Linked DNA regions of Homo sapiens: all the other regions are linked to region 1. The links come from fine-mapping of genetic effects on gene expression. A gene starts in region 1. Each other region holds a variant in brackets. All regions are shown on one strand. Distances are from middle to middle.

What was found.
Region 2: its variant is fine-mapped to the expression of ERGIC1 in whole blood (TOPMed, PIP above 0.99).
Region 3: its variant is fine-mapped to the expression of ERGIC1 in whole blood (TOPMed, PIP above 0.99).

Annotation. Positions count from the first base shown.
Region 1 is chr5:172,829,876-172,840,290 of GRCh38, reverse strand. It overlaps ERGIC1 (endoplasmic reticulum-golgi intermediate compartment 1), which reads right to left and starts at 6,040. Exons shown (of 10, transcript NM_001031711.3): 1 at 5,858-6,040. The coding sequence starts at 5,877. LOC124901135 (a long non-coding RNA gene) reads left to right here. Exons shown (of 2, transcript XR_007059054.1): 1 at 1-92; 2 at 2,718-2,941. RefSeq lists enhancers at 3,310-4,301, 4,598-4,807, 4,302-5,294 and silencers at 5,278-5,357, 5,368-5,417, 5,788-6,187.
Region 2 is chr5:172,929,345-172,939,759 of GRCh38, reverse strand. It overlaps ERGIC1 (endoplasmic reticulum-golgi intermediate compartment 1), which reads right to left. Exons shown (of 10, transcript NM_001031711.3): 8 at 7,224-7,324; 9 at 4,450-4,572. Among named protein-coding and RNA genes, the nearest start is that of MIR10523, 19 kb to the right of the region's middle. RefSeq lists an enhancer at 7,364-7,433 and a silencer at 8,381-8,450. The variant T/C (reference allele first, on the strand shown) is at 6,033.
Region 3 is chr5:172,795,850-172,806,264 of GRCh38, reverse strand. No RefSeq gene overlaps it. Among named protein-coding and RNA genes, the nearest start is that of DUSP1, 30 kb to the right of the region's middle. RefSeq lists an enhancer at 1-450 and a cis regulatory region at 3,100-4,008. The variant T/C (reference allele first, on the strand shown) is at 5,799.

The sequences.
Region 1 (10,415 bases):
CCTGTCTCCTGCTACTACAGCACCACAGTCAGGAATCCAAACGGCCTTGGGAGGAGAGGACATTCCATCTCATTCCATGTCCCCGCGAGCAGGTAAACATGATGCTCTAAGCTGGAAAACCCCCACTGGTCAGCGTGGGAAAACTGAGCCCCTCGAGGGTGATGCCATTAGCTGGTGTGAGGGTCTTTAAAGACCATTTCAGAATCAGGTATCACGCTACATGAGGCTAGGGGGAAAAAAGTTGATGGCTTTAAGCTTCTTAATGAGCACTGTTGGGTGAGGATTAGTGAAGAGAAACCCAATGAATCCAATTAGAAGAGTTCTCAGTTCTCTCTGAATTTAGTGAATGGAAAAGAGAAAGCTTTAGAGATGAGCCTACAGGACACAGTGGAGCTCTGGTGCCAAATGGCAGTGTTCCAATCCCAGCTCCAGGAACGGGAACGACCGTGTTTCCGAACTCTGTGGCACCTCCACTGGCTCACCTGTAAAGTGGGGTAACAACAGCACCTCCCTTGTAGGACTGTGGAGAATTAAAGGGGCTGATACAGTAAGATCCTTACAACAGTGCCTGGCACTAGCAAATGTTCAATAAACCCGAAATACTGGCCTTTTCACATAATTTTCTCTCTGGTCTAATTTTTATTTTCTTTTTGCCCTGATTTTTAAGGCTATATGTGTATGTGTATGTGTGTGTATGTGTGTGTGTGTGTATGTGTGTGTGTGTTTTGAGATAGGGTCTTGCTCTGTTACCCAGTGTGGAATGCAATGGCATGAACATGGCTCACTGAAGCCTCCACCTCCTGGGCTCAAGAGATCCTTCCACCTCAGCCTCCCAAGAAGCTGGGACCACAGACGCACATCACCACACCTGGCCATTTTTTTTTCCCCATAGAGATGGGGTCTGGGGTCTTGCTATGTTGACCAGCTTGGTCTTGAACTCCTGCAATCCTCAAGCAATCCTCCCACTTTGGCCTCCCAAAGTACTGGGATTACAGGTGTGAGCTACCACACCTGGCCCATATATATATACTTTTTTTTTTTTTTTTTTTTGAGACAGAGTCTCGCTCTGTTGGCCAGGCTGGAGTACAGTGGCAAGATCTCAGTTCACTGCAACCTCCGTCTCCCGGGCTCAAGCAATTCTCCTGCCTCAGCCTCCCGAGGAGCTGGGATTACAGGTATGTACCATCAAGCCCGGCTGATTTTTGTATTTTTATTAGAGACGGGGTTTCACCATGTTGGCCAGGCTGGTCTCAAACTCCTGACCTCAGGTAATCCGCCCACCTCAGCCTCCCAAAGTGCTGGGATTACAGGCATGAGCCACAGCGCTCATTTTATATTTTTTAAAACTTGCTGTAAAGTATATGTTCTTGTCAGCTTCCTTGGAATTCTTTCTGGAAGAAACAGCAGGGTAGAAATACAGGCATTCATGTTAGCTACTCTCTGCTGAATGTTAACTCTGTGCTCAGAGGTCCCTGTGGTGGCTGAGGCTTAGCTTGGTGTAGGAACTGATGGGGCTACCAGGGTCCCATTCCCTATTGGGGCCTAAGGAATTAAGACTGGGCCAGGTGCAGTGGCTCATGCCTGTGATCTTAGCACTTTGGGAGGCCAAGGAAGGAGGATGACTTGAGGCCAGGAGTTCAAGAACAACCTGGCCAACATAGCAAGACCCCATCTCTATATAATTTTTTTTTAAAAAGGAATTCACACTGGATCCTTAGAGCAATGAGACCCATTTGAAGGTTGAAATCAGGACATGAAAATATCAGATCAACTTTGGAAAGCTCACTAGGGAGTCCTGAGGAGGTCTGGGGTATCCTGGAGGGAGAAAGACCACTCAGAAGGCCAGAGTGAAAAATGGTAGAGGCCAAACCAAGGCCCTGCAGCAGGGCCAGCCCCATCAGGGCCGCATGACCTGTGCAGGCACACAGGGTCACACACTCAGAGGGGGGTCCATGCTTGGCTGAATGCGCTGCTGCTGCCGTCCTGAAATTCTTAATACTTTTTCAACAAGGGACTCCACATTTTCATTTTGCACTGGGCCCCACAAATTATGGGCCTCATCCTGCATTGCAAGTTGCATTGCACATTGATCCTGCAAGTGTGCATTGATCACACTTGCCCCTACATCTACTCTACCAGGTGAGGCAGCGAAGTTTACATCCCCTCCTTAAAATGAAGAAATGGAGGCTCCGAGAGGGGAAGTCAATGGTCCCAGAGCACATCTGGTCAGTGCCAGTGCAGCGGCACCCCCGAGGCCTTGGGTTTTCAACATGGGGGCTGTCACTGTGGGACAGCAGCCACCTGCACCTCCCGGAAGGCAGTGCTCAGGCACCACTGGGCCTGGGCACAGGGCTTCCGGATGCTGTTATCTTCCCTCCTCACCCACCCTGGGCTGGTGTGCAGAAGGCAGCAGGTGCTACTGGCCCCAGGCCAGCCGGAACTCGAAACAACACACACGGATGTGGGTCACAAGGCTAGTTCCACAACTGCAACAGCCAGCCATTAGTGAAACAATTTAACAAGAGCAAAGCAAACACAATAAATCATTGAAAGCTCAGCCTCCCTCCCCTGCGTTCTGCCTCCTTCCTTAACCCCAAAAACAACCTAGGAACGGCAGATTCAAGGGTGGAGAGGGGAGATTTCTCCACTAATGGCTGAAAATCTGCCCACTGAAGCTGGCATATCAAGTCACGTCATGTCTATGGCTTCCTTGACAGATTTCAAGAGGCATCTCCAAGGATCGAGTTTGGCTCAAGCACAGTTCTAGGTGCTGGAGATGCAACCTTGAAGAAGCCTGATAAAAACTTCTTGCCCTCAGGAGCTCATGTACTAATGGGAGGGAGAGAGAAGCAGCATGATAATTAAGTGAATTATATAATGTGTTAGGAGATGATGGGTGCTTAAATAAAATGACACAAATAAATATGGCGGCCAAAATGGATGAGGCGCTTACTCTGTGTCTAAATGCTTTCCGCACTGCCTCATCCCTCAACTGTTCTACTTCGGTGAGTACTCTCCTCATTCCCATTTCACAGACAGGAAAACACAGAACTCAGTTGCACCAGGCTCTACAGGCAGTAAGAAAATCAGAAGTATCCGTAGGGAAGGGCAAGAGTGCACTATTTTTCCTGCTTCTGATTTTAAGAAGGGGAACACGAGCAGGACGGCTGGTTTTCTCCCTGGCCTTGAACTGGGGGAGGAGGTCTAATCACGGTATACCCCTCTCCACTCCCCACAATTCTTAAAAGAGCTGACAGGATGGTGGGCCCCTCCAATCTCTCCCTTTTCTCCCAGATCTAAGGCTTTGGAGCTAACAGCCCCAAGTTCAAATCCCAGATCCACCAGCTCATGCACTGCATGGCCAGAGCAAAGGGCTTCTACTCAGTGGAGCTCCCCTCTCCTTTGATTTAAAATGAAGATTAAAACTCCCTCTCTCAGGTGACAAGGGAATCGATGTCTGCACCCCAAAGTGTGTATACAGTGGTAGATGCTCCTTGCGTGCCAGTTCACGCACACCCCCACTCCTGGGACCCCATAAGCCCTCCTCCCTTCTCTTGGAATGCAAAGAGAGCCGGACCACATGCCACCCACCTCCTCACGGTGGGGCCTGTGGCAGAGGGCTGAGCATGGACTGGACACTTGATGAATGCTTGATGAATGCACACTGAAGCGGAGGAAGGTGCATGGGGATGGTCGAACCCTCAGTAGAACCCAGGTCCTGGAGCCTTGAAGTTCACAGAGCTTAAAGAGTGCAGGTTTGCTGGGCACACATGGCTCATCCTCCAAGGTGCAAACGTGAAGCACTGAATCCATTCTCACCATTCCGCAGTGAGCCCAAGCCCTGAGAGTATTTCCTAGTTAAGCTGGGCCCCCTGACACCTGGGCACTCAGGGACCTGAAGTATGCCAAGGGAGCCCCAGACTAGCCAGCTTCTCAGAGCTGAGCATTTCTCTCTTTAAATATCAATGCCTGACACAGGGCCCTTCCAAGGCCAAAGGCTAGAGCTGGCCTTACCCATTTTCCTTACTTCCCTTACCTGCCCCCACAAGCCACCAATTCAAGGAGCACAAGGTTGGGAGCCATGTGTGACCTGAGACCTAAGTCTACCCTTCCCATTTAGCACCCATAAAGTCCAAGATAAGGCCCTCATCCCTGGAGCCTCATTTCCTCCTTGGTAAGACGGAAGGGTGAGGTGCAGGGAGAAAGGATTAAAAGATCAAAAACAGCAATTTCCCCAGCAAGCTCAAAATCACCGGAACCTACTGAATCACACAGGGGCAGGGGGCGGCGGTGGCACGAATCCCTATGGTTGGCCTGGGTAAGGGGAGGCTTTGTGGAACCAGAAATTGATGTGCCGACCACAGCTCTTATGGCCCAGACTTAACTGATGCTATTAGGACTGACCTTGAATTCCACCAGAGGGGCTGTCCTTGTTCAAAACTGCCTAGGTCTGCTAGCCTCAGGGCTGCCCGGCAGGGGCAAGAAGCCGGCAAACATTTGCTAGCTGGTATCAGGGACCCGGACAGGCTGGAAAACCATGTCAACCAATCAAGAGGTCCAAGACCAGTGTCCTCTTTGGGCCTAAACCCCAATATATCCCATGCTATGGGGGTCATGGCAGGCTAAGGGCCTTTCTCTCTGGGTAGACTGTCACTTTACACTGCCTTCACATGCAAGAAGAGGGGAAGAAATACCTCCTGTGGCACAGGCATCTGAATCACTATTTTGTGGATGTGGAAAACCCCTCCTGGAGAACACCCCCCATCCACTAATGCCCTATTTCTGAGCTCTAAATCATGCCAGACTCTGCTAAGGGTGTTTCACGCACTCAGTCGTCACAAGCGGAGACCTTATTTTTAGCCCCAATTTGCAGGTGGTGAAACTGAGGGCGCTCGGAGACTTGCTGAGGTCAGCCAGCCGAGCGGCGACAGGGAGTTCTGAACCCAGAGCCTTTGCCCCTAACTTCTAGAATATACCGAGCTGTTCAGTAGAAAGGGCAGAGCCAGGATTCTAATCCAGCTCCTCCCTGCATTAAAGCCCTGCTCTTTTCCCAGCCAGACACCAAGTGTGGCTGCCTCAGGCCAGGACATCCCCTGGGGCTCCACACCTCAAGGGAACCTCTGGTGGAGATCTCTTCCCCCGCAGGCTTCCAGAATGCCCCATGCAACCTAGACCATGAGGCAGCTGGACCCCACAAAGGACCCATTGTGGTGACTGCAGAAAGCCAAGGCCAGACCCCGGTGGCCCTTCTGCAGAGTCCTGCCCAAGGCGCCTCCTCCCCTTCCCATGGTGCCCCCATACCCAGCGGACAGGGCTGGGGCTGAGGGAGGGAGGGGCGGGGGCAGGCCTCCCGATCTGCCCGGCCTGGGGGAGCCTCAGGCTATAGAAACTTAAAACCCTCCAGCTGCCGGCAGGCTGCATGGGGCCCCAGGCCCCTCCGGACTCATTCCAGGTGCCCTGCCCCACCTGTCAGCTGAGGTGGGGTCCACCAAGGAGGCTCAGTAGAGGGAGGAGAGGGATGCTGGGGTGTTATGGGCTGTTCCCATCTGGGAGGAGGGAGGAAATGTTTCCTAGTGTGGGGGAGGGGAATGCAAGGTATCCGGGCAGGCTGGGGAGGGGGCTCGGCGGAGGGAAGGTGGGTGGATTTGTCTCCCGCTGCACGAGGGGGCCTCCGCGGCTCTGGCTGGCTTCGTGTGCGGCAGGGGGGGGGCTCGCCTGGGGTCCCTAGGGGCCTGCGGAGGCATGCACAGGGCGGGGAGCCGCTTTTGCATGCAGGGCGGGAGGGGTCCGCGGCGTGCCGGGGCGCTCCCTCTGCCCGCTGAGGGAACTCCCGACTGGCCGGGGTCGCCACACTCACCTCCTGAAGTCAAAGGGCATCGTGCCGCCGCCGGGGGTGGGAGCGCTGCAGGCCAGGCGGGCCGCGGCGCCGCGTGGGTCCGAGCCCGCTGCCAACGCCTCCTCCGGCCGCCCCGCCCCCGCCGGCCGCCCCCCTGACACTCGCCACTCGCCACTCGCCACTCGCCTCCCGCTGCCGGGAAGTGACGCTCCGCGCAGCCCATTGGGCGCCGCCCGCCCGGCCGCCCCTTCCGCCACCCGGTTAAAGGGGCCCGCGGGCAGGCAGGGAAGGGGCGGAGAGTCGAGGCTGTCGGAAGGGAAGGGAGTCCCCCAAAGACTCCAGTACTCATTCCTTCAAGCCTCCCACTTAGATTTCCTTCTCCATCTCTTTGGATGCCCTCGGACAAATTCTCTGCTTCTCCGAGCCCAGTTTTTTGCATTTGTAAACAGTTTCACTGAACTGTGATTGAGTTGGGGGCGGGGGGCGGGGTGATACAGACTTTGGCCGTGCACAGCGTCTAGCTCTGAGTGAGGGCCTAATACTGTGGGGGAAGGGAAGAGGTCGGCCATCCTAGGCTGTTAAGGTGGACTCACCTCTGCCCCTGCCGTGTCTCTCTGGGAAAGCCACTGGGCTTCTCAGAGCGCCCCCCCCCCGCCCCGCCCCTTTTGCATATCTGCACAAAGAGGACGATGACACCTACTTGAGGGGGTTTTCCTGGGGATCAGCTGAGAAACAGGAGACTGGCTTAGCACAGTGCCAGGCACCTGAAACTATTGAGGCTGGCAGTGGCTGTCCCTGCTTCCATCTGCCCCTGTCGTTCACTCCAGTGGGCATTCACAGAGCATCTGCTCTGAACCAGGTCCATCGAGAACATGCAGGGTTGTGGCAGAGGCAGATGGGACCTGCACTGTGACTTGGCCAACGTGGACTGTGCCGATTGTCTCCTTCTTAGAGCCTCAGTTTCCTCCTCAGGAATACAGAGCAGCTGCCTCCGTGACTGCTGGATTAGAGGAGATGGTAGTTGAGGTCACACAAGACCTGAGTAGGGGAAACTCACTCTGAACTTCCCCGAGGTTCTGTCACTGGCCCTTTCTCCAAGGTTGTGGTGGGACAGGGCTTCAAAAAACCCAGGGGAGAATGGTGAGGGCTCGGGTTCCAAAAGCAGAGTCAATGGACAGTTTCCCCCTGTGTAAATAGAGGGGAACAGCAGTGCTGGTTCCTCCGGGAGGATTCAGAAGGGACAACACTAGCACGGGGTCTGGGGTAGGGTGACGTGGTGAACCAAAGCCTTCCCCTAGAGCATATGCCGGGACCTGACCTCTGCGTTCCCTTTTCATTCATTCACTCATTCATTCATTCATTCATTCAGTGTCAGTGGTCTGACACTGTTGGGGGAGAAAAGGAAATCTCAGCCTGAACTGGAAACCTAGGGACAGCAGGGAGAGTTAAGGGATCTTGAGCAGCCACTGCTTCCAAACAGCCATTCGTTGGCCCTGTGTGGGAGGAAACATGCAATGATGGATCTTTGACCTCGAATCCTCCCTCCTCAAACTGTGGTCCACAGACCAGCCACATGGCCATCACAGGACAGACTCTTGTCCCCAGGCCAGACCTACTGAATCAAGTGTGCATTTGGGATGATATCCAAGGTCAGCAAATGCCTGGCACAGAGTAAATGCAAGACAGGGTTGACTATCATTGCTCTTTTCGAGTGGGGATAGAGCTCCCAACTTTTGGCTGGGCATGTGGGTGCTCACAGTGAAAGTTGCATTTCCCCAGCTTCCTTTGTAGCTAGATGTGGCATTGAGAAGTAAAGGGAAGTGTCTTGTGGGGCATCTGGGATAGTTGGTATGTCTGCTTTACCCTCTGTGTCCCTTTCTCCATCTGGCTGCCAGGAATGTAGGCGTCACCATCCTGGACCATAAGGTGGAGGCCACCACAGAGCAGAGCAACAAGACAAAAAGAGCCTAAGTTCCTGCCGGGCACAGTGGCTCACACCTGTAATTGCAGCACTTTGGGAGGCCGAGGTGGGCGGATCACCTGAGGTCAGGAGTTCGAGACCAGCCTGACCAACATGTGGTGAAACCCTGTCTCTACTAAAAATACAAAAATTAGCCGGGCGTGGTGCCACACGCCTGTAATCCCAGCTACTCAGGAGGCTGAGGCAGGAGAATCGCCTGAACCTGGGAGGCAGAGGTTGCAGTGAGCCCAGATCACACCACTGCCCTCCAGCCTGTGCGACAGAGTGAGACTCTGTCTCAAAAAAAAAAAAAAAAAACCTGAGTTCCTGTCTCTAAGTGGCAAAATACCTGTCCTCAAACACCTGCCCAAGAGAAACAAACATCTATCTTATTTAAGCTATTGTTATTCTGTATTTTCAGACACTTACACCTAAACCCAATGCTGATACACCTATGCAGCCTGGCTAGCTACTTGACTGCCCCAATGCTCATGGACTAGGCCAGTCCCCTATTACATAATCGCATGGTACCTTGTAGGTTTCCTTGGGAGAACTGGGCATGACGTGTGATTAGGTTATTATTAATTCGCTAGTAACTACTACCCCATCTGAGTGAAAGTTCCCTGAGAGGGGCCTGTCGGGGGGTAGGGGGCTAGGGGAGGGATAGCATTAGGAGAAATACCTAATGTAGATGACGGGTTGATGGGTACACAAACAATGATGCCATACACAAATGGCACGTGTATGCCTGTGTGACAAAACTGCACGTTCTGCACATGTATCCCAGAACCTAAAGTATAATTTAAAAAAAAAAAGGAAAGTTCCCTGAGACAAGGTGGTATCACCATCATATCCTAGCATCCAGCCAGACCCTGCACATGCTGGGGATGCACTAACTATGCGTTGAAGTTTGAATAGAGGCTTCCCAGGGAGGCAGGCCTTCCCACGGAGGCAGGCCTTACCAACAGAACAGCGGATGGGAGGGGAGGTATCAACATGGGCCTCCGCTGTGGGACTGGTGAGGTCTGTGAGCAGACCAGGCTGTCAGTCCCAGATGGTCCATCCACTCAAGAGCCAGTGGGAGATGGAGCTAAGAAAATCAGATTGTGTCTGCAGTACGTGGGAAGGCTCTGGGTCTCTTTGAGCAGGGAACAACAATACAAGTTAAGTTTTCGGATTATCAATCTTGTGGAAGCCTGTGGTAGGTAGCCAGCCTCCAGTGACCCTGATCTCCTGGTATTCCCATGCCCTTCTAGAATCACCTCCCACAATGAATAGGGCTGACCTATCCTGTGTAATCAACAGGATATTGCAGAAACGACAGTTATGACTCCTGTGGCTACGTCACAAAAGACTGAGGCTCTGCTTAGCCACTCTTGAATCACTCGTTCTGAGGGAAGCCAACTGCCTGTCCTAAAGAGGCTCAAGCACGATTATAAAGGGGCCTGGTCGGTGAGGAATGAGGCCTCCCACCAACAGCCATGTGAGTGGGCTCTCTTGGAAGTAGCGGCTCAGCCCCGGTCAGGGCTTCAAAGCTGCATCCCCAGCCCACAGCTTAACCACAGGTTCTTGAGAGACCCTGAGAAACACCCAGCTCAGCTGCTCCCGAATTCCTGATCCATAGAAACTATAAGATAATAAATGTTTGCTTTAAGCCATTAAGTTGTGGGTAATTAGTTACACAGCAGTAGATAAATAACAGAGACTCCATCCTCATTATTTTTTTTTCCTACCAGTAACTTCTCCCTGCCTTCCTCCATCTCACCCCCCGCCAGCCTGGGGAAATAGAAAACCACTTTGGACTCAGATCACTCTCTGCTGGGTGACCTGGACCAGTTGCTTAACTAGCTGGGTGTCTAGGTATGAAATGAAGGATAATAATACCTTACCTGTGGCAGGTAGCCTCTGAAATTGTCCCAATTAACCCACCTCTTGGTATTCATACCCTTGTGTAATTTCCTCCCTTCAAGTGTAGGCTGGACTTATGGACTCATTTCTAATGCACAAAATATGGCAGAAGTGATGAGCATGTTGCTTCTGAGATTAGGTTATCAAGAGATGGTGACTTCTGTCTTGGACACTCTCTTGCTATCTCTTGGATCAGTCACCCTGGATAAGCTGGCTTCTGTGTGTGGCTTCTGTGCCCTAAGGAAAAGCCCCTGTGGGTGAGTTTGCAAGTGATTCTTCTAAGGCAGGGGTGTCCAATCTTTTAGCTTCCCTGGGCCACGCTGGAAGAAGAAAAACTGTCTTAGGGGCCGGGCGTGGTGGCTTACGCCTGTAATCCCAGCACTTTGGGAGGCAGAGGCAGGTGGATCACGAGGTCAGGAGTTTGAGACCAGCCTGACCAACATGCTGAAACCCCGTCTCTACTAAAAACAAAAACAATTAGCTAGGCATGGTGGCGCATGCCTGTAATCCCAGCTACTCAGGAGGCTGAGGCAGGAGAATTGCTTGAACCTGAGAAGCAGAGGTTGCAGTGAGCAGAGATGGAGCCACTGCACTCCAGCCTGGGTGACAGAGGGAGACCCCGTCTCAAAAAAAAAAAAAAAAATAGAAAAATTGTCTTGGGCCACACATAAAATACAGTAACACGGGCTGGGTGCGGTGGCTCACGCCTGT
Region 2 (10,415 bases), 99 kb before region 1:
CAGAGCTGACCCCACGGTTACCATGGCAACCAAGGTGGTGGCACAGGGCCTTCAGAAGAACCACCAGGCTAATGATGTCAGGAGGTTCCCTGCAGCAGTGTGGCCCACAAGCCCAGGGCTTTGCCAGCCCACGCTTGAGCAGAGGTGGATGGGGCAGAAATGGAGGACAGGCTGGTGGCCAAGGACAGGAAGAGAAGGAGGAGTCATAGAGGCATTGGGTCTCTGACGAAGGAAGGGTCTTCCCCGTGGCTTCTTGGAGCCTCCTGCTCTCAGAAGGTCAGCGGCTCACTGGGGAGTTTGTCACCTGCCAAAGGGGGTGGCATGGACTTCATACGACATGTTATACTGGGCGCCTCTGCGCATAGCATTCCCTTTCCCGGGCCCTTCCTCCTCAGCTCAAGGCCCATCACAGGGTTCTATTCTTAGAGCTTCCCAAACAAAGGGGATGGCGCCCTCTTGTTTGCCTGCAGTGTCTGGCGCACATCTCCACTAGAGCCGGTCACAGCTCCCTGTGCTCACTCATCTGCCCCTCCAGCAGGGGGCTCCTTCAAGGCAGGGACTGCGTATGATTCAGCTGACCCTGGTGCCTGCTACGGGGGCCGGAACATAGTGAATTCTAGCAAATGTTAAGTGAATAAATGAAGTTGCTTCATTTCTCAGCCACTTGCCAAGTGATTTCTTTTTTCTTTTTTTTTTTGAGATGGAGTCTCACTCTATCGCCCAGACCCGAGTGCAGTGGCGTGATCTCGGCTCACTGCAACCTCTGTCTGCCAGGTTCAAGCAATTCTCCTGCCTCACCCTCCCAAGTAGCTGGGACTACAAGCATGTGCCACCATGCCCGGCTAATTTTTTGTACTTTTAGTGGAGATGGGGTTTCACAATGTTGGTCAGGCTGGTCTCAAACTCCCGACCTGGTGATCCGCCCGCCTCAGCCTCCCAAAGTGTTGGGATTACAGGCGTGAGCCACCGTGCCCGGCCGATTTCTTTTTTTTTTTCTTTTTTTTTTTGAGATAGAGTCTCGCTCTGGTACCCAGGCTGGAGTGCAGTGGCATCAGCTCAGCTCACTGCAACGTCCGCCTTCTGGGTTTCAAGGGATTCTCCGGCCTCAGCCTCCCGAGTAGCTGGGACTACAAGTGCCCACCCCCATGCTCAGCTAATTTTTGTATTTTAACTAGAGACGAGGTTTTGCCATGTTGGCCAGGCTGGTCTTGAACTCCTGACCTCAAGTGATCCCCCGCCTCGGCCTCCCAAAGTGCTGGGATTACAGGCATAAGCCACCGTGCCCGGCCATTGCCAAATGATTGTAATGCCCAGAGTCTCAGCTGCTTTCCATACAGGAGCAAACAGAAACGGGGACAGAAAAGAGCCTTCTGAACCCTACTGTGAGGCATGGCTGGAGGGGGTTTCTCTGCTATAGTCAATGTACAGACCCTAGGGCCTCTGAGGAGTGGTCTAGACCTTCATGGAGGCACCAGGGAACCTACTTGTATCTTTGTGTGTGGCTTATCGTGGGTGTGGAGTAGGAGAGCTGCAGTAAGAATCAGCACCAAGACCCACTTGGGGTGTGCTACCCTGCGGGGTCTTGGGTTAAATCATTTGCTCACAAATCCCCTGATTTTTTGGGTCCTGGGGTTTGTGCATCTCCCCTCAGGGTAGCTGTACCCATGTCCCTGCACACCAATAGCACATGTGGGTTCCCAGGGCTTCACATCTTCCCAATCTTTGTAGTAGCAGGTTTTCAATTTCTTTCTTTTTTTTTTTTGAGACGGAGTCTCACTCTGTTGCCCAGGCTGGAGTGCACTGGAGTGATCCTGGCTCACCGCAACCTCTCCCTCCCAGGTTCAAGTAATTCTCCCACCTCAGCCTCCCAAGTAGCTGGGATTACAGGCGCCCACCACCATGCCCCGCTAATTTTTGTATTTTTAGTAGTGTTTTGTCATGTTGGCTAGGCTGGTCTTGAACTCCTGACCTCAGGTGATCTGCCCGCCTCGGCCTCCCAAAGTCCTGGAATTACAGGTGTGAGCCGGGCAAGTTTTCAATTTCTGTCAGTCCAATAGGATTCAACTGGGTCTTTTAATTTTTTTATTTTTCTGAGACCGGGTCTCACTGTTGCCCAGGCTGGAGGGCAGTGGCGCCATCATGGCCCACTGCAGTGTCAACCTCCCACGCTCAAGCAATCCTCCCACCTCAGCCTCCCAACTAGCTGAAACTACAGGCATGCACCACTATGTCTAGCTAATTTTTTAACTTTTCTTTTGTAGGGAGGGGGTCTTGCTGCGGTGACCAGGCTGGTTTCAAACTCCTGGCCTCAAGTCATCCTCCTGCTTCCACCTCCCAGAGTGCTGGGATTACAGGTGTGAGCTACCACGTCTGGCCTGAATTGAGTCTTGTTTTAAATCCCATCCCTCCAATTTCTAGTGAACTTGGGCATCTTTTCACTGCCAATATCACCTCCTCTGTGAAGAGCTGGTCCTTGGCCTTGTCTGCTTTTTTGGTTGTTAACTTTTTCTTACTGATCTGTAGGAGTTCTTTACATATGAATTCTGAAGGCTACCCCTTTCCCATTTGGATGGCAAGTATCTTTTCCCAGGCTGCGTGTGAGATTTTTGCTTTATGTTATGTGCCGTTTGTTGAACAGGAGTTTCTAACTTTTATGTGGTCAAAGAGAACAGCAAAAAACTGTTCTGAGGCTCATGTAAGCACCAGACTTATGACACCCTTTGTATCTCTCTGTCTGTTTTCTGGGGATTTTTGTTTTTTAGAGAAAGGGTCTCGCTCTGTTGCCCAGGCTAGAGTGAAGTGGCACGATCATGACTCACTCTAACCTTAAAATCCTGGGCTCAAGTGATCCTCTCACCTCAGCCTCCTAAGTAGCTGGGACTACAGGTGCATATACCACCGTATCCAGCTAATTTAAGAAGATTCTTAGAGACAAGCCTTCACAATGTTGCCCAGGCTGGTTTCAAACTCCTGGCCTCAAGCGATCCTCCCGCCTCAGCCTCCCAAACTGCTGGGACTACAAGTGTGAGCCACTGTGCCCCGTCCTACTTGGCTTTTCACATCTGCAAACAGCTTCTCCTTTCACAATCTCCTCTGAGTCCCACAAGGCCCTGGGAGGTGGCAGGAACAGAGATGATCGTTCTTACTTCACAGATGAGAAGGCAGAGACCCTGTCACAACATCCCACTGTTCTGCCTCCTGGCACCCACTCTTTCCTCTTCCAGTAGCTGGCCCCTGCCTTTTCTCTTGAGAAACCTCATTCCTCACAATCTGTGTCCCTGCGGTTTGGATGGGGTTGACACCAGAGAGGGTACAGGGCCTAAGCCTGGCCAACCAGAGCATTTGATTTCCCAGGCCACAAGGATGGCATGAGGCCTGAGCTGGGCCAGTGAGAGCTCTGTCCTATCTAGGACTTGGTTAGAATGACTGAGAAAGAGGCCATTTCTACTGGTAAATTCTACTTGAAGATGAAGCCAGTGTAGCGGAAAGCAGATCCGAAGATAGAGACCTACTCCTGGCAATGTTGGAGGCTGGATCCAGCCATGCCTGAGGCCTTCTACTCCTCAGGCCAGCTCAAGGTCTGGTTCTGGATCTTCGGTAACAGAGTCCTGACTAATACTGACCTAGTTATTGCGGGAAATGAAAGAGCCAAGGCCCTTGATCTTGAACCATCATTACAAGCATGAAGAAGTACAGAAGCATAAGGGCCTCCCAATGCCATATTTATCTTTAGGTCTCAGTTTCCAAATCTGTGAAGTAGGGATAGCCACCCTGTCTCTTCCACCTCAGCTAACTCTGGCTTCTTCAGTACCTCCTGGGCCTCTTGGGTGAAGAAGGGCACCCTGACCCTCCTGTTCTGACCCTAAGGACCTTCTGAATGGGAGGCCAGGAAACAGTAGACATGATAGAAATAATCAGCATAAAGGAAAACTAACATCAGCTTGAATCTGCCCTAGAGAAAACTGGATGTGGTAGAGACCATGGCAAAAAAGAGAGAACAGAGAGGAAGGAAAGGGAAAAATCGGACCCTATCAGCAGCTATAACTGGAAATTAGACCTGGAAAAAAAAATGAGTTCAATCTTTGGTGCAAAATTTACACATTAAAGGATAAACTCTGCTAAGAATAATTTCCATAACAATAAAAAGCTGGAGAAAATCCTAAACATCTAGTGGAACCATATGGAGATTTGCTTCAGGAATTAAATGGATTTCAGGGCATTCCCCTCTGGAAAATACTTTCTAGACAAAACGTCATCGATACTGATGTGTTTCTGACAACATTTCTCAGCATCCTTGGGGTCGAAGCCTCCTGTGCCCAGCCAGAGCCCCTAGCCCTGCAGGCTGCCTCCTGTTTCAGCGAGAACAGGTGAGGGGTGCCAAGGAAAGGGGCCCAGAGCAGGCGCAGGGTGGCTGGCTCAGGGCCCCACCCACTGCCCCAGGCCACTCACCGTGGTGATGAATCTGTACAGCGGCTGCCGTCTCTCTGTGTACTTGACCGTGATGGGGCTGAGGTCGTAGCGGAACCAGATTGCAGGGATGATGCGGCCCGTGTGGCTGTAGGCGACGTATTCCTGGGGTAGAGGATATAAGAATCAGAAGTACAAACTGTGTCTCAGGGGGGGCGGGGACTGGATTGCAGAGGGCCCCCCAGCAACCCTCCAGAAAGGGCTTTCCTCCCTCTCTGCCCCACGAAGCCAGACTCCCCCACTCCCTCTCTCACATCCCTTCCCCTGGAGGCCCTGAACTCTGCCGTGCACAGCTGGGCATTTTTGATACCCTTGGTTGTTTAGAAATTGACCAAGTGAGCTGCAAGCAGCACCAGAATCAGAAAATAAATTAGAAAGCAGAGCTGTAAAAGGAAAAGTGCAATTTTTGGCTATTGCCTCCTTCAACCTCTGGGCCACGCGAAATCCATTCATTTATTCAACAATGGTTTGCTGAACGCCTCCACTGTGGTGGCCCATGGCTGGCTGCTGGGGACCCCGAGGTGAGCAAGTCCTGCCCTTTACCCAGAGGGAGTCGCAGTCTGCAGAAGGAGGAAGACATAAGAATATCCCTAACACTGTGACATCATGCATGTGGGATGGAGGAACATGGAGAGTTGAGGGGAATGAATGAATGACCCATTCTCCCGGGCGGCATCTGGGAGACTGGGGAGGGGACATTCTGAGCCACACATGATGAATAAGCAGGAGTCCCAGTGTGTGTGTGTGTGTGATGGGTGTAAATGCCACGTGGGGAGTGGGCTAGCTTCTTCAGAGGAATAGACTGAACTGCAAAGCCAGAAGGCCCCGCCCTGCCACCAACCTTCCTGAGAATGCACACAGCAGGGACTAAGGATACTACGAGGCTGAGCTAACAGTGCATCCTTGGGCCAGCCCCTCCCTCCCTCAGGGACTTGGCTTCCCCATCTAAACACGGATGGGCCTGGGATGATGATCCCTGGGATCTCTCCAGTTTGGGCACTTCAAGGTGCTAAAGTCTGCAACAACTGGAGGCCAAATTGAACCACTGGGGTACCCCCAACCCCACATGCTGAGCCTGAGGAGCCCAGGCCACTCCGGGGGTAAGTAACACTGAGCCCTGACCTCCCGCTGGGTCGCTGCTGCCTGCTCCCAGGGCAGAGTGCGGCTGCAGCCATAGAGAAGCTAAGCAAGCTGTATTTGGCTGCTGGGCCTTGCCAAAGCATTGGGAAAAGGAGCTTTGTGCAAGGGAAGACCAGCTTTCTCCAGGAGAGCTGCTGGGGCAGGATGACTGTCTGGGTCACAACCCAGAGCTGAGGGACAGAGAAAAAGAGTGAAAAATAGCAGCAGTCAGTATCACTTACCTAAAGGCTTTTTTTTTTTGGTGGGCTAGGCATTTTTGAAAACATTGCCTCATGTGACAGCACTCTTATAAAGTATCATCTCCATTTTATGAATGAGTAAACTGAGGCACACAGTGGCTATGTGACATGTCCGGGGTCAATAGCTAGTGAATGACTGAGCTGGAATTTGAACTGCAGCGTGGTCCTGAGCTTGCATCTGTGCTT[T/C]TCCATCTGTTAGCTGCTATGAGCATGTGAGGGTTACAATGAGATGCCCCCTGTGAAACAGTGAATAAAAGAAACAGGGGCTCCCGGGAACATCAATTTAGGGTGAGTCAGAACAGAGGGACTAAGTCATTGGACAGAGAGCAGCTCGCAGGTGGGCAGACTCACAGCCCCTTCCTCAGACCGAGGCGTGAGGTGATCAAGAAGCCAGGCTCTGGAGCCCAAGGAAAACCTGTTCTAATCCCCACTCAGCCACTTTATAGCTCTACAACCACCTCTCAGTGCCTCAATGGTCAAATCAACAAAATGGGCTCAATAACAGTCTCAACATCAGAGCTGTCATGATGATTGAGAAGACGGAAGAAGAGAGCTTAGCATGTCTAGCCCCCAGGAAGTACTCAATGAGTGACAGCTATGCCTCCTACTGTTGTTATAATTAACTGAGCTAAACAGGTATCACTTATAAGGGGTTTGGGCAGCCTTGGAACAGAAGAAAAAGGACAGTCCTGGTGGTAAGTGGGAAAAACCCATCCGCCAGGGTCTAGCAGGGGCATTTCAACCAACAGGTTTCAAGTATTCATGTCCCATTGGTGGGATACCCCCAGGGAAGCCCAAGGCTGTCTTGTCTTGAGACCACTAATTGCTGGGTCATCCCACTCTGCAGACTCTGACCATGCTCTGCTGCCCACTAAGGCCTGGCGTCTTCTCCATGACTTTGAGTGTTGGGGTCCTGGGGACACCCCTGTCAATCAACAGCAAATTAATCAACAGCCATCTTGGTGTGACTCAGTAGCCTCATGAGTTTGGGTAAAGTGCCTGTGCCCTGAGAGCAGGAGTGTCTGTCTGTGTTGAGCACCCAGGGGTCTGTGTCTGAAGGACTCGGACCAGATGCAGGGCTGTTTGAGACCTGCAACCCCAGGACCTTTGTAGGACAGAGACTACCTGCTCTTTGTCAAACGCATCACACCCTATCTCCTGGTTAGATCTGTTCTCCTTGACTCTGAGACTGCCACATGGCAGGGACTGGGCTTTTCAATTTTACCCAGGGACAGCGCCTGGCCCAAGCTAACCCCCAGGAAAGGCCTCCAGAAAGGAATCAGAAGAAAGTGCGTCGGTGCAGCCGCCTGTCATCTCTGCTCTCCGTCAGCAGAGGGCGCCGCCGCACACAGCTCGGCCCAGCCACCGCCCGCGCACCTTGTTGGCCACCGTGTACTGGTAGGAGTACCGCTGCTTGCCACTCTTGTCCTCATAAACCGTGGGCACAATCTTCAGGATGTAGTCGTGGGAGGCCAGGGCTGCGGGAAGGACACAGCAGAATGAAGCAGGGGGACGGGCACTGCCCGCTGACAGCTCTATGTCATTTCAATCCTAAGCCTAAATTCCCTGGGCACGGCAGGGGGCTCATTCCCCAGTTTTACCACCAACCAACTGCTCTTCATCTTCTCCCCTTGGATACCGGGAATTGGGAGACTCTATCCATCAGGATCTTTCCTCCTGCACTGTGCACATCATTAAAATTCTGGAAACAACCCAAATGTCCATCAATAGAGCAACCATGAAAGAGTGAGTGTTGGCCAGGCGTGGTGGCTCACGCCTGTAATCCCAGCACTTTGGGAGGCCGAGGTGGGTGGATCATCTGCAGTCAGGAGTTCGAGACCAGCCTGCCCAAGATGGTGAAACCCCGTCTCTACTAAAAATTCAAAAATTAGCCAGGCGTGGTGGCAGGTGCCTGTAATCCCAGCTACTCAGGAGGCTGAGGCAGGAGAATCGCTTGAACCTGGGAGGCGGAGGTTGCAGTGAGCTAAGGTCATGCCACTGCACTCCAGCCTGGGCGATAGAGCAAGACTCTGTCTCAAAAAAAAAAAAAAAAAAAGTGTGGGTGCTAGGAGCAGCTATTCTCCAACAGGGAAAAGAACCAAGTCATGGGACAGGATACACATGTGTCCATGGATTGGGGGAGGAGGAGACACTCTGTATCCATGTAAATATATAGGAGAATTATCTGGAAAGATGCCCAAGGAACCACGGGCAGCTTTAGCTTCTGGGGAGGAAGGCAGGATTTGAGAAAGATCCCATTTCATTGTACATCCTCTGACATTGTCTGAATAGTTTTACTTTTAAAACAAACTAGGTTTCAGTATTAAAAAGAAAAGAGCCTATCAACCAGAAAAACTGCACCAATGAAGCACTGATGAACTGAGAATGGGGAAAGAAATCAACGGCAGATCAGTTCTTCCTGGATGGGGGAGCTGCTGAAGGCAGGGATGGAGCCTTACTCAACTCTGTGTCCCCAGAGCCCCGTGCAGGGCCTGGTACCAAGTGGACCGTGGCAAATGCTTACTGAATGAATGAACGGATGGAAGGATGATTGGACAGGGGCATGAATGAAAGCACAGATGAATCAGCTGCTGATAAGCGTGAGGTAACTGGAATCCAATGCTGGGCTGATAGAATGCTGGCCCAGAGCTGCCAAATATCACTCAGGAAAGGTATGAACTCTCCTGGGCCTTCTGGGATGCTTACAGGAAGCTCATGGGCCTTCCACAATCTCGGGTCACGGACTACAGAGCTAAAATAACACAGAAATTTAGGCCTGTGGGTTCTAAGCCTGGTCGCAGAGTCGAGTCAGTCCTCTTCTGTAAGAAGGCTGGGAATGCAGACAGCATTCACTGCCCTGACACTCCCTCCCTGCCCCTTCCTGCCAAAGCCATATCTCAGTAAGCAAAGGAAGTGCTTCTTGAATTGTTTTGAGTAGGTTCCTCTGAAAACCCGAGAAAAGTCCTGCAGCCGCAGAGCCCAGTCCATGAAGACTCCAACATCCCTCTGTTCAACCCTGTAATGGTTCTCAGATGTCAGAAGCAGTCGAATCATTTGGAATAAAAAGACACCTGGACCTCTTTCCAGGAGCATCCCGCCAAATGGGTCAAGGGTGGAGCTCAGAATTTGCATTTTTAAAACAAGAGCCCAAGACCACGCTTGATAGTGGTGTCCAAACGCCCATTGCCCTAGGTTAAAAACTTGAAGGAATGAAAAAGTGAATGCCTTATCAAAATCACCCCTGTAATATTTCTTGTTAAAATTTGTACAAGGCCGGATGTGGTGGCTCACGCCTGTAATCCCAGCACTTAGGGAGGCCGAGGTGGGAGGATCACTTGAGGTGAGGAGTTCAAGACCAACCTGGCCAACATGGTGAAACCCCATCTCTACTAAAAATACAAAAATTAGCCAAGCCTGGTGGCACACACCTGTAGTCCCGGCTACTAGGGAGGCTGAGGCAGGAGAATCGCTTGAACCCGGGAGGTGGAGGTTGCAGTGAGCTGCCACTGCACTCCAGCCTGGGCAACAGAGCGAGACTCCATCTCAAAAAAAAAAAAATTGTACAAAACACAGGTGATCACCAAGGACAAAACAAAAAATCACCATAAATTCACCATCCTCAGAAAACTATGGTTCACAGTCTCACATATAAACTGCCAGACATGTTTATACATATATTTGTATTTTCCTAAAATAGGACCATACCGTATCTTTTTTTTTTTTTTTGAAACGGAGTTTCACTCTGTCACCCAGGCTGGAGTGCAGTGGCACGATCTCGGCTCACTGCAACCTCCACCCTCTGGGTTCAAGTGATTCTCCTTCCTCAGCCTCCTGAGTAGCTGGGACTACAGGCGCCTGCCACCACGCCTGGCTAATTTTTTGTATTTTTAGTAGAGATGGGGGTTTCACCATCTTGGCCAGGCTGGTCTTGAACTCCTGACCTCGTGATCCACCCGACTTGGCCTCCCAAAGTGCTGGGATTACAGGCGTTAGCCACCGCGCCCAGCCATCTTTTTCTAAGAACTGAACATCATGATCAACTTTTCAGGTCTAAGACACAGAACATAAGCTCTGCAGAGTTTGTTTTATTCATCTCTCTATCCCCAGAACCTAGCCCAATGCCCAGCATATAGTAGGTGCTCAATAAATCTTTGCTGCCTGACTGCCAGTAAGGTCCTGACACACCTCGCTCATCTTGGGCAGTTACCATGCTCAGTCAACCCCCTATGGCTGGACACTGACGTGGTTCCTCATTTTCAATTTTATAAACAATGACCTAATGAACATTATTTTCCTAGATTTTTGTACACTCTCTTAATTATTTCCTTAGCTTACTCTCCTATGAGTACAATTGATGACTCAAAGGCAATGACCATTTTTAAGGCCTTTGATACAATTTGCCAAATGCCCACTGGAGACACTGCAGTTAATTACACCCATGTGGATTCCTTGTGAGCTGACCATTCCTAGAGACTGCTGGCTCCAACCTGGTCTAGGCCAGCCCACATTCCCTTCAAGCTCACTCCTCCTCCCCTACCCGCAAAATCTTCTTACAGAAAAATTCAAACC
Region 3 (10,415 bases), 34 kb after region 1:
TTTCCCTGTGTCCCAAACTGGGAGTGACAGGTCTGGGTGGGGGTATGATTACTGTCTCTCTAAAACCGACATACCTCCAAGGAAGAAATTGTTCAAAAGGGTGGCAAGTGGTAAGCTAAAGCCCCTGAGCCTTCCCCAAGGTAACACCTGTAGAGAGTTTTTTGTGAGTCTGAGCAGGCCCCCAGGGAAGTCCTGGAGGACCGTAGCATCCCAGTTTGGCCCTCAGCCCACTGTTTGTTTTGCCCAGTTCTCAGTCTCTCAGCTTTGGAAATGTTAGGAAGAGAAAGGAGAAGCAAGGCGGCCAGAGTGCTGCGGAGCTGGGAGGGGCGTTTGACAGACAGCGCAGGGTGGGGCGTCAGGGATGCCGTGGACAGAGGAGCTTGGGGAAAAGAGAAGGGGCACTTAAGCGAAGTTTTCAGAAGCCTTGATGGGCCTTGTGTGGTGCAACACCCTCCTCCATCTCTAAAGGAAAACAGCAGTAAAATCTATGTGATTGAGACACTGGGTTCTGGCAATATGGTGGACCTGAACATATATACTCCTTATATGTATATTTCATAATAAAGAAAATACTTTTTAAAATCCACATGTTTGGCAATACTATAGGGTTGAATTTGTGGTTTGGAAGGAGATGGGCTCTGGTGGGATTGACCTCAGTTCAGCAGGAGAGCAGCTGAAGGAGCCAGTACCAAGTGGGTATTGAGTCTGCCTGTCTTCCTTCCTTCCTTCCTTCTTTCCTTCCTTCCCTCTTTCCTTCCTTCCCTTTCTTCCCTTCTTTTCTTTCTTCTGTTCCTTTCTCTTTCCTCCCTCCCTCCCTCCGTATCTTCTTTCCTTCCTTCCTTCCCTTCCTTCCTTTCTTCTGTTCCCTTCCCTTTCCTCCCTCCCTCCCTCCCTCCCTTCCTGCCTCCCTCCCTCCCTTCCTTCGTCCTCTCTCACTCCCTCTCTCTCTCCCTTCCTCCCTACCATCTACCTATTATCTGTCTATCCTTATCTATCTATCTATCTATCTATCTATCATCTATCTTCTATTATTATCTATCACCTACTCACTTTTCATGCACAAAATGGATTATGCTGTTCTGCAACCTAATTTTTAAATTCAATGCCATCTCTTGGACAGCTACATCAGCCCATGATGATCTGTGACATCCCTTCCAAAGTTGGCTGCATGTGTTAGGAGACATATTCTTGAAGGTTGAGGAGATACTATGTCCACATGTGGCTTCTGGGCTGGACAGGCCTGCGGTCATCCATTCAATTTTTTAAAAGGGCATTTGTTGGATTCTTGAAGTAACCTCCCACCCGGTCTCCTTGTCTCCCTGTGAGAGTTTATTCTTGGTACAACACACAGAGTGATTGTGTCTCTCTCCTGCTCACAACCCTCCAGGGGTCCCCATCTCACTGGGGCCCACAGGCCTGCCCTGCAGCATCCACATCATCTTCTTGGGGTCTTCACTCCAGTGTCATGTTCTCACTGACGTCTTCCCTGGCTGTCATGTTGAAAATGGCAACCCCTCTCCACCCAAGCACCCTTCCCCATGCTCCCCTGCTTTATTTTCTCACCACAGTTACCTGACATAGCCTATATCTTACTTACATGTTTGCTGTCTCCCAACTCCCCTACACGCACCCCAGAATGCCAACTCCACAAGACAGAGATTTTTGTCTGCTGGTTTTGTTCTATGTTTTTGGCTTTTTTTTTTTTTTTTTTTTTTGAGTCAGGCTTTCACTCTGTCAACCAGGCTGGAGTGCGGTGGTGTAATCATAGCTCTCTGCATCCTTGAACCTCCAAGGCTCAAGCGATCCTCCTACCTCAGTCTCCTGAGTAGCTGGGACTACAGGTGTGTGCCACCACACCTGGCTAATTTTTGTATTTCGTGTAGAGACAGGGTCTCGTTACATTGCCCAGGCTGGTTTTGAACTCCTGGGCTCAAGCAATCTTCCTGCCTCAGCCCCCCAAAGTGCTGGGATTACAGGTGTGAGCCACTGCACCTGGACTGTCTGCTGTTTTTAAATCTCAGTTATCCCCAGAATCTAGAACAAGCCTGGCACATCAGGCATGGCTCACTAGATACTTGTTGAGGTGAATTGAATCTAGAAGCTGATTTCTGCAGGCGTGTTGCCTCTTGGCTTGTTACAGAGGGAGAAGAACTTCCCATCATTAAACCGTCTACCTCTGACTCTCCTTGTTCTAAGTTGGATTATTCCCCCTTATTACCATTCTCCCAATTTGTCTCACATTTCATCATATTTAGAGCAGTTAACAGTTGGAATGCTCACCATCTCGTTGGATCCCCCACGATCTTCTTGGTAGAATCTTGGTTGGATCTTCTTGGTAGAAGAAGAAATGATTATTGTTGAGCTCTATACTGTTACTCCCTGCTTAAAACTCTCCAAATGAAGGACATCATGCTAAGTGAAATAAGCCAGGCACAGAAGGATAAATTCCGTGTTCTTACTCATAAGTGGGAGCTAATAAAGTTGATTCCATAGAGGTGGAGAGTAGAATAGTGGTTACCAGAGGCTGGGAAGAGAAGTGGGCAAGGAGGGGTAGGGAATGGCTGATTAATGGGTACAAACGGTTAAATAGAAGAAATAAGTTCTGATGTTCTATGGCACAGCAGGGTGACTATAATTAACAATAATTTATTATTTATTTTGAAGCAGCTAGAAGAGAGGATTTTGAAAATTCCCAGTACAAAGAAATAATAACTGTTTGAGATGATGGATATGTCAATTACCCTGATTTAATCATTACAGGTTGTCTGCATGTATTGAAATATCACGTGTACCCCATAAATATGTACAATTATATATTAATACCAATTAAAAGTTTTTAATGAAAATATTAGAAAGATCACGAAAAAAGTCATCTTAATAAGTCACAAATGAATTTAAAAAATAAAACCTCTCCAAATGGTCACCAACTCACTTAAATGAAAACCAGATACTTTAGCCAGGCACAGTGGTGTGTGGCTGTAGTCCCGGCTACTTGGGAGGCCAAGGTGGGAGGATCCCTTGAGCTCAGGAGTTTGAATCAAGCCTGGGCAACCTAGGAAGATCCTGTCTCCACAAAAAAAATTTCTGAAAAGGTACCTTATCAAGGCCCCTCTTCCCAACAGTGCTCCAGGTGCACTGGCCTCCCTCCATGTCCCCAGGCTGCTGACACTTGCTGTACCATCTACCTGGAATACTGTCTCTATTAGCTTTCTAAGGTTGCCATAACAAAATCCCATACACTGGATAGTGTGTGATAGTGAAACAACAAAAGTTTATTCCTCACAGTTCTGGAGGCTGAGAGTCCAAGATTAAGGTGCCGGCAGGTTTGGTCTCTCCTTGGCTTGCAGATAACCATTTTCTCACTGTGTCCTCTGAGGGTCTTTTCTTTGTGCTCACGCATCCTTGGTGTCTGTCCTAATCTCCTCTTCTTATAAGGACACCAGTCATTGGATTAGGGCCCACTGTGATGACTCATTCTAACTTAACTGCCTCTTTAAAGGCCTTATCTCCAAATACATTCACATACTGAAGTATTGGGGGTTAGGGCTTCCACATATGAATTTTGAGGGGGTAGCAATTCAGTCTATAACACTGTCCCAGTTCTTCAAAAGCCTGGTTCTAGCTGGGCATGGTGGCTCACACCTGTAATCCCAACACTTTGGGAGGCTGGAGTGGGAGGATCGCTTGAGCCCGGGAGTTTGAGACTAGACTGGGCAACAAAGTAGGGCCCTGTGTCTACAAAAAAACACAAAACAAACAAACAAACAAAATAAAAGTCTGATTCCTTCCTCCTCAGGATCTAAATATTAGCCTCAGGTGACTTCACTTCCTGGAAGCCATCCCTGGTCACCCCCATCCCATCAGTCCCTCTGTACCATAAGGCCCTGCTGATTTTTTCCCTTATGTACAATCTATTGTTACCACATTTGCCTATCTGCCTACTTGTTTATTGTCTATATCCCCTAGTGGTATCCTGGCAAATATTTAACATCGGCTTTTGGGTGCAGGATGGTTGTGGGTAGTGGGGAGGCTGCCTTACAGCGTCTGCCAATTTCTGTGGTGTAAACATACCCACTGTGGCCAATTTCAAACTACCAAAGTGATGTCACATGGCTGTCCAAATTCCTGAAAATCTAAAACAACCTGTTCTTGTGAGCAGGTGCAGTCTGGCTCCAACTCTCCCACTACCAGGTAGACTCCACTGAGGGCAGGAGCCTTGCCTTCTTCTTCGTAGTCAAGTCTCTAAGGTCTAGGACAGTTCCTAGATCAGAAATATGGCTCAACAACTTGAATTCATTCTTGAATGAATAAGTTAAATTCTTAATCCCAATCTGAAGACCTCCCATGAGTTTGCCCTTTTGGCCACCCTCATCTCTTTGCTGGCCCTTTGGCTGCCTGGGCCCCTTTACTCCCCAGATGTTGTGGTGCACCCCTGGCTATGTCCAGGTTCCCCAAAGGCCACATGTCCTTTCACTCCTCTCTTCCCAGACAGCCCTGAACCTGGATGACTTCTATTAGCCTTCCAGATGCAGCTGATGGCAGGCAATGTTTTTCTTAGCCCTGTGGGGTGACACGATCCCTGGGCTCACCAATTCCCTGGTGCCACCTTCTCTCTGGCCCCTGATCATGGTGGCTGCTTCTTCCTCTGCCTCCCTTGGGGCTCCTGACCCAATTTCCTGGCACACAGCAGGGCTCATGTGAGTAAGTGAAGGCATATGGCAGAATACCAGTTATGGGGCAGGGGTAGAATTGGTGCGGTGGGGAGTACTCACCTACGGCACAATTTGACCAAAGGCTGTACTCGCCCTGAAAGAATGAAGAAATTCTCCATTCATGAAAGTATGAAGAAACTGATGAGCAATTAAATGCCTGAGCCCAGAGTAATGATGATTAAGGAATGCTGGAAAAGGCATGATTACAAGGCTCTGACAGCATTTGAAAGTTCTAAGTTCCAGTGAGTTCAGGAGAGTGCTTTGGGTGGGCAGGGCCTGACTGTTATCAGAGGATGCTAGGCCCCTCGTTCCTGACCCATTAGATCACCAAGAGCTGAGAGTAAGGCAAGTTGTCACCATTTGTGCCCCACCTTACCTCACTGCATTTTTTTTTTTTTTTTTGAGTGGAGTCTCATTCTGTCATCCAGGCTGGAGTGCAGTGGCACTATCTCGGCTCACTGCAACCTCCACCTCTCAGGTTCAGGTGATTCTCCATCTCAGCCTCCCGAGTAGCTGGGATTACAGGTGTGCGCCACCATGCCTGGCTAATTTTTTTACATTTTATTTTTAGTAGAGAGGGGGTTTCACCATGTTGGCCAGGCTGGTTTCGAGCTCCTGATCTCAAGTGATCCACTCACCTCGACCTCCCAAAGTGCTGGGATTACAGGTGTGAGCCACCGTGCCTGGCCCTCACTGCCTTTTGAGAAGCAATTTGACCTGAAGGATGAGAAGGACCATGGGAAGATGTGGGGAAGGGGGTTCTTGCTGGTGGGTTCTTAAGGCAGGAGAGTGTGTTCTGTAAAATGGGATAACAATAAAGATTGCCTCCTACAGTGACAGAGAGGATGAAATGAGATATCATCAGCACAGTGCTTGGGACAGAGCTTGGCTTCCGGTAAACACTCACTGAATGCGGGAGGACAGTGTTCGCATGCGTTTGGCCACCAGAATGTCACCTTCCTGAGGCAGGGTCTCTATATCTGTCCCAGCTATATTTCCAGAGCCTAGAAACAGTGCCTGGCACCCAGTCGGCACTCAATACATGCTTGTTGAAGGCATGAGTGAGCTGATTACATAACCATCTTC[T/C]GGTAACAAACCCAGGGAGAGAGCTCCAGTGCCCCGGCGCTTGGTTCCCACGGCTCAGTGCCGCAATCTGTTTATTTCCCCACTCACCCTGCGCAGCCCTAGCAGGCAGTGACTGCACAGAGCTGATGACTCGGCCTAGTACTTCTCTAAATGCTGCCTGGGGCTGGTGGAATCTCCAGGGCCTGGCTCATCAGGGTGAGCTGATGACTTGGGGCCCAGTGCGGCCCACTTTCCCGTTAGCTCAGCCCGGGTCAGCGGGCTGGCTCAACCTTCGGGTTCTGTCCGGGGAAGGGAACAGAACATTCGGCCCCAGGCAGGAAAGACGTTGCACAGGCCCCTGAGAAGCGAGCCCTGGCCTGTCCCACTCCACTGCCTCTCTTTGTTTGTAGCTCACTTCTCTCCTCCCTCTGACCCTGAGGCTGCCCTCATCCTGGAAGATGATGGGGCTGTCCCGAGGAATATAGGCTTAGAGCTGGGGGCAAATTGATGGACGATCTAACAGTACCAATGTGCTGGACCCACGCTCAATCACTTAACTGAGCACTTACTCTGTGTCTGTTCCTATGCTAAATGAAAAGGTTGAATTTCACTTACTCTAAAGAAACACCCAACTATTTCCCAAATACTCTGTTCTTTGATGCCGCTCGGCCTTCACATGGGTTGTTCTTGTTTCAAATGCCTTTCCTGGTAAGTACTCAACCTTCAGCACCCAGCTCCTCTATCACCTCCTCTCAAAAGCCTTCCCCAGCTCACCCAAGACAGTAAAACCACAGTCTTTCCTGGGACCCCCAACATTTAGGCTTGCGCGTCTGTCTCGCACTGCGCCGTGGCACCTCCAAAGCCCAGGCTGGGCTCCATTCTTCTCTTGATCCTGGGGGTCCTTCTCCATGCCCAGCACACAACAGGGGCACTGCAGATGTTGGCTCCTCCCTTCCCAGTCCCTGGCCACTTCCTTTCCATCTCTGTATGCCCCTCGTCCCTTTGTCTGTGTATCATATTTTTGTTTTCATTCTAAGAACAATGCTCATCCTGTTATAGTTATTTGTTAATGTAAGTGGAATGACACAAATGAATCAATGACATTTGTCATTGTCTGGCAGGACACCACACAGGAGGTGTTCAATTATTTGCCTAATAGAATCCATGGTCACCTCCAGCAAGAAATCATCAGAATAGGTAGAGAAGGAGAGGATGAGGCCAGGACAAGGAGGAGAACAGAAGGTGCTGGAACTAACATTTTCTGACCTATGTGTGTCAGGCGTGTTTCATTTATTTCTCACCATAATCCTATTATGATCACCCTTCTTATGGATGGAAAATGAAGGCACAGAGAGGTGAGGTGACTTGCCCAATATCACACAGCAAGTGAGTGGCAGAGCTGGGGTTTGAGCCCCGTCTACCAAGCCCCACCCGTTGGACAGGGAAGGTGGAGTGTGCCTGTCGCAGAAGAGTGCGCAGAGAAGCAAGGAGAGACTGCAAGACACTGCAGGGAGAATGAATGGGTCAGACCCAGACCCCGGGCTGCACAGTCCCTGCCTTCCAGATGTTCTCTGTCATGGCTCCCCGGACAGATGCCCCCTGGCCCGTAGAACCGCCCCAGACTCCTCCAACACACTTAACCACTTTCCGTGGAGACCACTGTGCTTTTCAAGGAGCTTTTTTCTAATATTGACCCCAACCTATACAGTTCCCTTTCACTCCCTGGACCAGGGTTTGGGTTACCTTAACCCCTCAGGATTGCACAACGCCCACTGAAGGCTTCAGGAACCCACAACTTCTCAATAATGCTGAACTGGGTGAAATTTCCCAGTAGCCACCTCCTCCGCCTGACTAATGCTTCTTAGCTTGGCAATGCAATGTCCTATTTTTAAGGAACCCAGTCATTTGGTTTAGATTCTTTATTTGTTTTATTTTAATGACCTTCTGAATCATTCATTTTTCTACTTTTGAACTGATTCACTCTTCGCCACTTCCTTGTATAGAAATCCAACCCCTCCTTTAGGGCTCAGCACCAACACCCACCTTCTCCCGAAAATTATCCTCATACCATCCTCTCTCCAGGAAGAAGTATTCCCTCCCTCTCCCATTTCTGTGCCATTCATCTGGTATTTATTATATTGTCATGGTCATTATCATAATGATAATAATAATAATAATAATGATATGCCAGCTACTTGGGTCATTGCTTTTCATTTTTATCATGACCCCAGGAAGAAAGTGATTATTATTTACATTTTACAGAAAATGAAACTAAGCCTCAGGGAGTTTATACCTTTTGCTCAAGGTCACACAAAGTAAGTGATGCAGCTGAGGTGCTAGCCAGCTGAGCCCAACTCTGAAGCGAGTGTCTTGAAAGGCAGCTGTTTGCATGGGGTGCCTGGTACTGTGATGGGGGCTTGGGATGATTGCGCTTGGGGCTGTGATTTTGGTTTTGATGTCTGTCAACCCCCGCTGGAGACTATGAGCTCCACGAAGTGTTCTGTTTCCTGTTGCACTGTAAGTAATCAATATCTGGGAGCAAATAGCTGATGTTCCATAGACATCGACCCATGGCTGGAGGACTTCCTGTCCTTTCTATAGTGTTAGCAGCTTGAAGCCTTACACAGTTTTGCATTTCTTACAACATCAAGTGCTGGGTAGCAATCTTGATCAATGCTCATTGAATGAAGGAAGTAAGGGACAGGCATGGGCTTGGGGGCTTCCAGTGAGCTTATTTTCTAGCTGAAAACATTCGGTAGGAAATTTTCTAGAATGATCTCTATAGCTCAGGATGAATACTGTCAGATAAGACCTCCTCATCACTTTTTTCAAGTTAAAGTAACAGAATTTATAGACTAAGGGTTCAGTTGAGTTTAGGCAACACACATTTATGGATGTCTACTGTGGGCCAGACGCTTCACTCAAAGACAGCTGTGTGAGCAACCAGCCAGGCAGAGGGCCTTTGGGTGTCCACCCTCGCTCTCACTCCTTCTGGGAGGCAAGCTCCCTAGTGCCCTGAAAACAGGCAGAGTTGGAACCTTGGAAACTGGGGGAGAGAGGGGATAATAGCCATGTCTGGTCAAAGAAGACCAAGCAGTAAAGATCTCAACCTCGTCTGGGCACGGTGGCTCACGCCTGTAATCCCAGCACTTTGGGAAGCTGAGGTGGGCGGATCACAAGGTCAGGAGTTCGAGTCCAGCCTGGCCAACATGGTGAAACCCCATCTCTACTAAAAATACAAAAATTAGCCAGGCATGGTGGTGCACGCCTGTAGTCCAGCTACTCGGGAGGCTGAGGCGGGAGAATTGCTTGAACCCGGGAGGTGGAGGTTGCGGTGAGCCAAGATGGCACCACTGTACTCCAGCCTGGGTGACAGAGCAAGACTCCGTCTCAAAAAAAAAAAAAAAAAACAAAAAACTCAACCTCCCAAAGGCCCCTGAGAAAGGAAACCAAGCAGCAGTGGGAGACCTGGAGGCTGGCTCATCTCTCGTGGGGCATGAAGAGGGCGGGCCTTGGCCACCAAGGGGCCACAGAAGAACTGGATGAGGTGGAAGAGGTCTAGGAAGGATAATAAAAATGAGAGGCCAGTTGGAGGTGGCACATGGAGACAAAGAGGTCCCCTTATCCTTCAATTTCATGCTTTTCTCCTCAAATTCTGTCTTGTCTGCCATCCATATTGCTAGCCCTGCTTTCTTTGTGTTTGTGTTTTCCTGATACTCCTGTGCCCAGCCTTTCACATGTAACCACGAAGGGATACTTTGTCTCTGGTAGGGCTTCTGTTACCAGCATCTCATTGGCTTTTTGGTTTTAGGGCCCAAATCACAAGCTTCACCTTTTGATAGGAGTGGTCTCTCGGGGAAGCAGAGAGCCCAGTGGTTAAACCTGGCCTCTTGGAGCCAAGCTGCCTGGGCTGGACGGTCACCTGACAATCTGCTGACATCTATGGGGCCTCTCCTGTTTCCACCCTAAGGACAAGGGAGAGCATCCCCCCTTGGCAGGCCACGTGACAAGAACATTCCATTGGCATGCAAGGGACCCCCACATTTGGGGTGAGCGATTGGCCCTTTTTAACTCAAGAGCATCTTGACTGCTGGATTTGGCCAGAAGGGCAGGGATCCCTGCCCTGCTTCTTCTCGCGTGCAAGGATGAGACTCTGACATGCTGATGAAGTAATAGTAGTAATAGTACTAGCAGCAAACACTTACTTGGAGTTCACTGTGGGCCCAGCACTGTGCCAAGGCCTTCCCCATTTCATCTCGTTTGCATTTCTCTATATCGGGATTAAGAGCATGCGCTCTGAAGACAGACAGCCTAGGTGTGAATTTCAGCCATGCCACTTACTGGTTCGGGCAAGTTACTTTACTTCTCTGGGCCTCAGTTTCCTCACCTATAAAATGGGGTGAATAATAACACCTGATAATAGATCCTTTACACACAGTAAATGGCATATAAATATTACTATTCTATTTCAAAAAATCTAATATCAGCTTCCTCTTTCCTCGGCTTGTGAAAGGTAAATATTTAAAAGAGAAAGCTGATAGAGGGAACGGTTCATTTTTCAGAGCTTCAGGCAAAAGGGAAGGGACTTTTGCAAGAAGGAAGACATCAGAGTGGATCATTGTGGCCTGCATTTCCAAA